Linked DNA regions of Homo sapiens. The protein of the gene in region 1 purifies or fractionates together with the protein of each later gene. This does not show direct contact. Each region holds a gene or a part of one and is shown on either strand. Other genes may lie near its edges.

The links. The genes of interacting proteins can lie anywhere in the genome.
Region 2: the proteins of NUP88 (region 1) and RBM42 fractionate together in Homo sapiens (co-fractionation; 2 studies listed by BioGRID). This does not show direct contact.

The regions. Positions count from the first base shown.
Region 1 is NC_000017.11:5,418,056-5,422,001, reverse strand, and holds the start of NUP88 (nuclear pore complex protein Nup88), read left to right. Parts: upstream 1-2,339; 5' UTR 2,340-2,351; coding exon 2,352-2,648; intron 2,649-3,946. Other genes in the region: RPAIN (RPA-interacting protein), read right to left, coding at 536-706, 1,711-1,791. UniProt on the Homo sapiens protein: Component of nuclear pore complex.
Region 2 is NC_000019.10:35,632,036-35,635,635, reverse strand, and holds part of RBM42 (RNA-binding protein 42), read right to left. Parts: intron 2,701-3,600; coding exon 2,635-2,700; intron 2,560-2,634; coding exon 2,384-2,559; intron 1,950-2,383; coding exon 1,617-1,949; intron 1,381-1,616; coding exon 1,263-1,380; intron 1-1,262. UniProt on the Homo sapiens protein: Binds (via the RRM domain) to the 3'-untranslated region (UTR) of CDKN1A mRNA.

The sequences.
Region 1 (3,946 bases):
AGCCTGGCCAACATGGTGAAACCCCATCCCTGCTAAAACAGAAACAAAATTAGCCGGGCATGGTGGCACACATCTGTAATCCCAGCTACTTGGGAGGCTGAGACAGGAGAATCGTTTGAACCCAGGAGGTGGAGGTTGCAGTGAGCCGAGATCTTGCCACTGCACTCCAGCCTGGGCGACAGAGCAAGACAGAAAAAAAAAAAGAGCGAGAGAGAGGGAGAGAAAGAGATTCCTAGCCTATGCCTACTGAATCATAATTTCCAAGGGTGGAGGCAAGAAATGAAATTTCTTTCTTTTTAGTTTCATAAATGATGATGTTGCAGTGATGAGCAGGTCTACGGTCTGGTATTTCAGACCATTTCATCTAGACAAGTCTAACATTAAGTGTAGAAAAGCCTGGGTTAAAGGCTGTTGAATTCTAAATGGGGTTAGGGGAATGGTGGGTTTAGAGGACTCAAGTAAACAAATAAAAGAGGACACGAGCCGTTCTTGGTGGTGCAGTCCCCCTCCCTGAAAACACATAGCCCAGCCTGACCTGAGCCAAGTCTTCTGGACAATTCTCCACTGACTGCAAAGCATTCCACTCTTCTTCCATCACCTCTTGAACTAGAAAGCTGTTCTGAGAATTCCCTGGCCCACTGCTTCCAGCCTGGCGGTACCTGTTTAGGAGCCTGTCCCGGCTGTTTCTCATTCTCTCCAGGCATCTCTGGGAAAAAAGAGCAAGATTGGGGGGGAAAAAAAAAGCATTTCTATTTTTAAAAAACACTCTTACATTAGTTGAGAAAACATTAAAGAAAGTTTATAGACACAAAATTTCAATGATAATACTAACTAGTGTTACTTTTGCATATTCCTCTGTAGAGATACATAAAATTACAATGCTTTGTACACGTATTTACAAAGAACCATATTTTTTATTCTAGCTTGCCAGTTTCCTTAATGGTTGTGTGCATAATATCTCAGCATCCAATGTCCTATTACAGAACATTTATATTCCTTCCAAATTCTTGCTACTCTAGATATGGCTGGGTAACGGCCTTCCTGCACAGCAGCGTTTCTGAACTCAGGGAGGTTTTGTCCCCCAAGGAACATTTGGCAATGCTTGGAGACATTTCTGGTTGTCACAATTCTAGTTATAGGACTATTAGCATCTAGTGGGTGGAGGCCCGAGACGTGGCTTAAACAACCCTCCACAACATATAAATATCTCCCTCAAAATGTCCATTGTCAAGGCTGAGAAACTCTGCTGTATCTGCTATCTTTCTTGCGTCGGGTTACTTTCTTGGACATTACTTACTAATAACCACACTGTGTTCAGAAGAGGCCAGAACTGAGGTGGAGCCCTCTTCTAAGCCTCATTTTACTACTCTCTAGAATAGAAATCATCTCTATCTCACAAGACGAACGTAGACAAAGTGCCTCTCTCGGTGGCCACCTCCGCAGCAACAGTAGGTAGTGTTATTGCAGAGGTGCAAACGGTGATGTCCTGACCACAATTTAAATTCAAAACAAAATCGAATCCAAAAACAAGGCTTTCTAGGACTTGACCGACCCGGGCTAATCCCACACTCTACAGTCAGCAGGCCTGGGTTTGACCAGACCAGGCGCGCTGCGGCACCTGCTCCACGGAGCAGGGCTAAGGCGAAGGCAGGGAAGACGGCGGTCACCGGGACGATCTAGGGTAGACCACTGCACAAACCCCATACCCACCTGCCGGAAAGCCTCTTTCCAAGGCGGCGAGCCCACCAGTTTGTACAGGGAGCGGCGCGGAGACCTCAACGACTCCGCCATCTCCTCTTCGCGGGAGACAAAGCCACAAGACCCGTTCCCTGGAGGCGCGCACAGACCCCTGGGAGGTGTACTTTCCGGGTGCAGACCGCGAATGGATCGCAGCGTATTCTGGGAAGTGTTGTTTTATCGACCGGCCCCACGTGGAGACAGATTTAGGCATCCAAGCGAAATGCGTGAGGCCAGCCCGACCTGCACTGAGGGAGGTAAGTCTTGAGGGAAAGTTCTGGATGCCTGGGTTTACCCAGATGGAGGTGTCCAATAGGCAATTAGATACACAAGTCTCAGGCTCTCCCCAGGTGCTAGATTTCCAGCAGCACCACCATTATGTTGACTTCTCGTCCCGCCCCCTTGGGCTTCAGAAATAATGGTGATTGGCTTTCCCTTGGTGACGCCCCTGCTTGGTGGGCTGGCCTCGCCTTCGCCCCCCGACCTGGCACGAGCCTCTCGAGCTTCCGGGCCGTCTGCTCGGTGATTGGCCGAAACAGTGAGTGGACGGCCGCGGATTGGCTGTGCTCAGCGGCGGGCTGAGCAACTGGAGTGAGGGGAGCAGTTGGGCCAAGATGGCGGCCGCCGAGGGACCGGTGGGCGACGGCGAGCTGTGGCAGACCTGGCTTCCTAACCACGTCGTGTTCTTGCGGCTCCGGGAGGGACTGAAAAACCAGAGTCCAACCGAAGCTGAGAAACCAGCTTCTTCGTCGTTGCCTTCGTCGCCGCCGCCGCAGTTGCTGACGAGAAACGTGGTCTTTGGCCTCGGCGGAGAGCTTTTCCTGTGGGACGGAGAAGACAGCTCCTTCTTAGTCGTTCGCCTTCGGGGCCCCAGCGGCGGCGGCGAAGAGCCCGCCCTGTCCCAGTACCAGGTAATGCCAGGCCGATCTTGGAAGTGACCCTCACCGGGATCGGAACCAGTCTTTTTTGTTCCTTGCTCCTCTTGGCTGTTTTTCATCTTGTGGCAGGCGTTCCAGCGGATTGACTCCGACGCTGCCATACGCGGTCGCGGGGACTCAGGCTCTCTCGATGCTTACGGCCTGGAGGCCTGGGAGGAAGGAAAGGGTCATTGAATATTCAATAAAAATACTAGTGACGGATGAGTGCTCTGGAGAAAAACAAAGCGGGCTAAAGGGGTTGAGAACGAGTGGGCGGAGTTGCTATTTTTAGTTTCGTCGAGAGAAACCTGTTTCCTGATGTGACGCTTATAATAGGTTAGATCGTAACTTTCTCTTGCGTTGTGCACAGCAAGTCAGGTTGCAGGTTTCAAAGCACCACGCTTCATGCTTGACATGGAGGAGGAAGTCTCTGTTAATTCTTACCCCCGTAACGCCCGCTTTAGAAAATAAAGCCATACCCAAAATGGGGATTTTTGTTTTTGATTAGCCGACAGCATGTGAAAATGGGTGTGATCCAGAAAGTATTACACACTTGCCGTGGTCAAATATTGGTTTATGGAAATGTTTATTTGTAATACACAGATTCTCTTAAAGATGAAAAAGAGCTTGGTACTCATTCTAAGGTATGACATCTGTTGTGTGCCCGGTCCAATTCTTGTTACCGAGAAGTGATTTAATTTTAATAAGACGCTAGCAATGCTTCTGCAGTTTTGAAAATAGGGCAGGAGTCTACAGTCTACTTATTTACCCAATTTCAGTTAAAAAGAATTATGAAGGCCGGGCGCGGTGGCTCACGCCTGCAGTCCCAACACTGGGAGGCAGAGGCAGGTGGATCACCTGAAGTCAGGAATTCGAGACCAGCCTGGCCAACATGGTGAAACCCCGTCTCTACTAAAAATACAAAAATTAGCCAGGTGTAGTGGCGCGCCCTTGTAATCCCAGCTACTCAGGTGCCTGAGGCAGGAGAATCGCTTGAACCTGGGAGGAGGAGGTTGCAGTGAGCTGAGATCACGCCCCTGCACTACAGCCTGGGCAACAGAGCAAGACTGTGTCTCAAAAAATAATAATAATTACCAAATGTGCAGCACGCAGTATTCTAATAACATTCTATACTGCTGTGTAGCATTTGACATAATCATAACTTAATTATTTATAATTATTTTGTGTCTTTTTTTTTTTTTTGAGATGGAGTTTCGCTCTTGTTGCCCAGGCTGGAGTGCAATGGCGCCATCTCGGCTCACCGCAACCTCCACCTTCCAGTTTCAAGCGAT
Region 2 (3,600 bases), on another chromosome or scaffold:
GGCAGGAGAATTACTTGACCCTGGCAGGTGGAGGTTGCAGTGAGCTGCCGAGATTGCGCCACTGCACTCCAGCCTGGGCGATGGAGCAAGACTCCGTTTCAAAAAAAAAAAAGAAAAAAAAAAAGATATAATTGAAGGACATAAAACTGCATGCATGCTGGTTCAGGGCAAAAACATTAATAGTTCTAACAGAGTTTTGGGACACCTAGGGAAATACGAATATAAACTGAAAAGAAGATACCGAATTAGTTAATGTTCTTAGACTTGATAATAGTATTATGATATGCAAAAAGTATCTCTTTTCTTTTTTTTTTTTTTTTTGAGATGGAGTCTTGTTCTGTTGCCAGGCTAGAGTGCAGTGGCCTGATCTCGGCTCACTGCAACCTCTGCCTCCTGGGTTCAGGCGATACTCCTGTCTCAGCCAACCGAGTAGCTGGGATTATAGGTGCCTCCCACCAAGCCTGGCTAATTTTTTTGTATTTTTAGAGACACGGGATTTCACCATGTTGGCCAGGCTGGTCTTGAACTCCTGACCTCAAGTGATCCACCTGCCTCCGCCTCCCAAAGTGCTGGGATTACAGGTGTGAGCCACCGTGCCTGGCCAAAATATCTCTTTTCTTAGGAGATAAATACTGAGATATTTAGAAGTGATTAATTCACTTATAACTTGCTTCAAATGACTGAGCTAAAAACAAAGAAACCAGATACATACACAAAGAGGAAAAAAGTGAACACAGCAAAATGTTAATTGCAGAATCTAGGTGGTGGGTAGACGGGTGTTTACTGTGCCATCTGTGTTTAAAATTTTTCCCGGCCAGGTACAGTGGCTCATGCCTGTAATCCCAGCACTTTGGGAGGCTGAGGCAGGAGAATCACTTGAACCTGGGGGGCGGAGGCTGCAGTGAGCCAAGATTGCGCCACTGCACTGCAGCCTGGGCGACAGAGTGGTACTCTGTCTCATAAAAAAAAAAAAAAAAAATTTTTATCCTAAGAGTTGGGAAAAAAAAAGAATGCTCTCTGAAGCCAGGCACCTCATGAGTAAAACAGGCTACAAAGCCCCATGTCCCCGTCACCTCCACCAAGCTCCGGCCCATGGCTAGGTGAAGAACCAGCCCCTGAGCCATAGCCTCCCCTCCCCAAGGTGGGCTAACAACAGCGCCCACCCTACTGAGAGGGTTCACCCTCCCAGTCTGCAGCCCAAGGACAGCAGCCTGGTCTGACCTTGGCCGAGCCACGCCTGACCTCGAGCTTCAGCAGCTTACCTGCATCCCACTCCAGCAGGCTGGGGTCCTCCCAGCTGCTCCCTGCCGCTGTGCGAATGCACCGTTTCAATTTCTCTGGCTTCCCCTTCTTCTTGTCTTCACCCAGGGGCTCTGGGACCTGCAGAGGAAAGGGGAGAGGTGCAAAGGGGTTGGTATTGGGGTCTCCCACTGTCCTTTGGTCCCCGGCCCTCCTGCCACCACAGTAAGGGCTGGATGTGCTTCTGGATGTGGGGCACATGTGTCCGCCTCCCTCCCCCAGGTCCTCCTGCTGTCCGGTCTGTCTGTGTGGAAGTTCCTGGGCTCCTGTCTGCCCCCCGTCCCTTCTGTCCCTTCACCGCTAGGCTCCCTGCTTACCTCAAGAGCCATGAGGCCTGGGGGTGGCTCTGGCCGAGGGGGCCGGGGCCGAGGACGCAGGGACAGGAGTTCAGGAATGCGCAGCGGGGGCAGGAGGCCGCGGACGACCTCCAACGGGAGGGGCAGGGGCTCAGGCTCGGGCAATGGCATGGCCAGGGCCAGCGGCAGGCTGGGCCCAATGACTGCAGGGCCAGCTGGGGCACCTCCTGCCCCCACGGCCACAGCCGCGCTAGCCTCCTCCAGCCCAGCCGCCGCCGCCACCACTGCCTCTTCCTTCTCTTTCAGGCCCAACCCCAGGCCTAGGCCCAGCTCTCGGGGTGCTGCTGGCTCTTCCTGTGGGTAAGAGGAGAGCATGAGGGGGGCCGGCTCACAGGCTCAGACTTTACTGTCATCTCCATTCCATCCAACAAAGAAAGGGCCTGGGGGCCAGAGAGCAGCCAAGAGACACCCAAGCAGAGAGTCTCCAGCCAGACAAACACAGAGAAGGAGAAACACAGGCAGAGAGAGACAGCCACAGACAAGAACATCAGTAACAATCAAAAGAGAAATATTCCAATAGCATGTTTCTCTCTGTACTCCCTTCACAAAAGGAGAGAACAGATTTTGCCACAGAAAGATGCAGAAAGAGACAGAGACAAAGGCAGAGTGAGAAGGTAGAGAAACAGAAAGTCAGGAGAGAGGCCAACTCAGACATAGCCCATTGGGCCAGGATGGATGGTCTCCCCGTCCACCGCACATCTGACCGTTAGTTCCCTGTTCACACTCACCAGAGGGGGCCTCAGTGCAGCCATGGAGCCCAGCGGGGGCCCTGGAGCCCGAGCCATTGGTGGCAGCATCATGGGTGGTCCAGGGGGCCCAGGCAGAGGGGGGCCCACGAGGGCCTGGTGAGGGGGCCGTAGGGCCATAGGGCGGGGGCCGGCTGCTGCAGAGGAGAGAGCGGAATCTGTCAGGGTGTTAGTGGGGAGTTCCAGGGCCTGGGGGGAGTTATGTGGCAGGGATGATGACCCTGGCCCCTCACCTGCTCTCTGTAGCACGTGGGGGACGAAGGCTGGACGCAGGATAGGGGCCCTCTGGGGGGCCACAGCTGTGGGAGAGAGAGATGGGGGTGTGTGTCATGGGGGACAGGGGCACTTGGGACAAGGTGTGTGTGTGCATGCGTGTGTGTGTGTGCACTCTCAGCATCAAGAAATCCTGGAGAAGAGTCTGGGGAGCCCTCCTGGAGATGTGGGGGCCTCTCCCCTGGTTCATTCCATGAAAATTTACCACTGAGAAGCTCCTCTGGCTCAGCCCTGTGGCAGGCAATGCTGGGGACACACCAACAGACCCAGGGTTCTCAGGGAGCTCCTGGTCCAGAGGAGGAGGGAATGGAGACATCACTAGAGAAGGAGAGCCAGTGGGGACCAGCGCTGGAAGCAGGGAAGCCCAGGCAGTGGGATCAGTGCTAAGAGAGGGGAGCCCTCTGACCCAGCCAGGCCCAGGGAAGGCTTCCTGGAGAAAGGGACCTGTGAGCTGAGACCCAAGGGGCAATGAAGTGTTAGGCAAGGGGTGAGTGGGAATATTATTGGCAGGAAGAATATTTATAAGCAAAACCTTTCCCTTTTCAGTTTAGTGTAACTGTAATAGAAGTAGTGGGGCTTAGAGAGTGTCATGAGAAGGGCTGAGCAGCCAGCAGGCACCCCAGTAGAGCTTTTTTGTTCTTAAAGCACAGCATTCTTGGCTGAGCCATGGGTGTCCTCCTGAGGGCACTGGGGAGCCACAGCAGGGTTGGAAGCTGGGCAGGGGAAGTAGGTCAGATTTGCATTTTGATCAAAACCATACTAAAAAGTAAGAGACATTACAACTTCTCAGAGATCATCAGATTAATAAGTATAACAGGATTTAGGTAACATAAGTAGCACGTTTGGTTTAACCGAGATTATACCAGAATTTTACATCCAAGTAAGAACACGCATCCTTTTCATACATATAAGGAAGTAATGTCCTA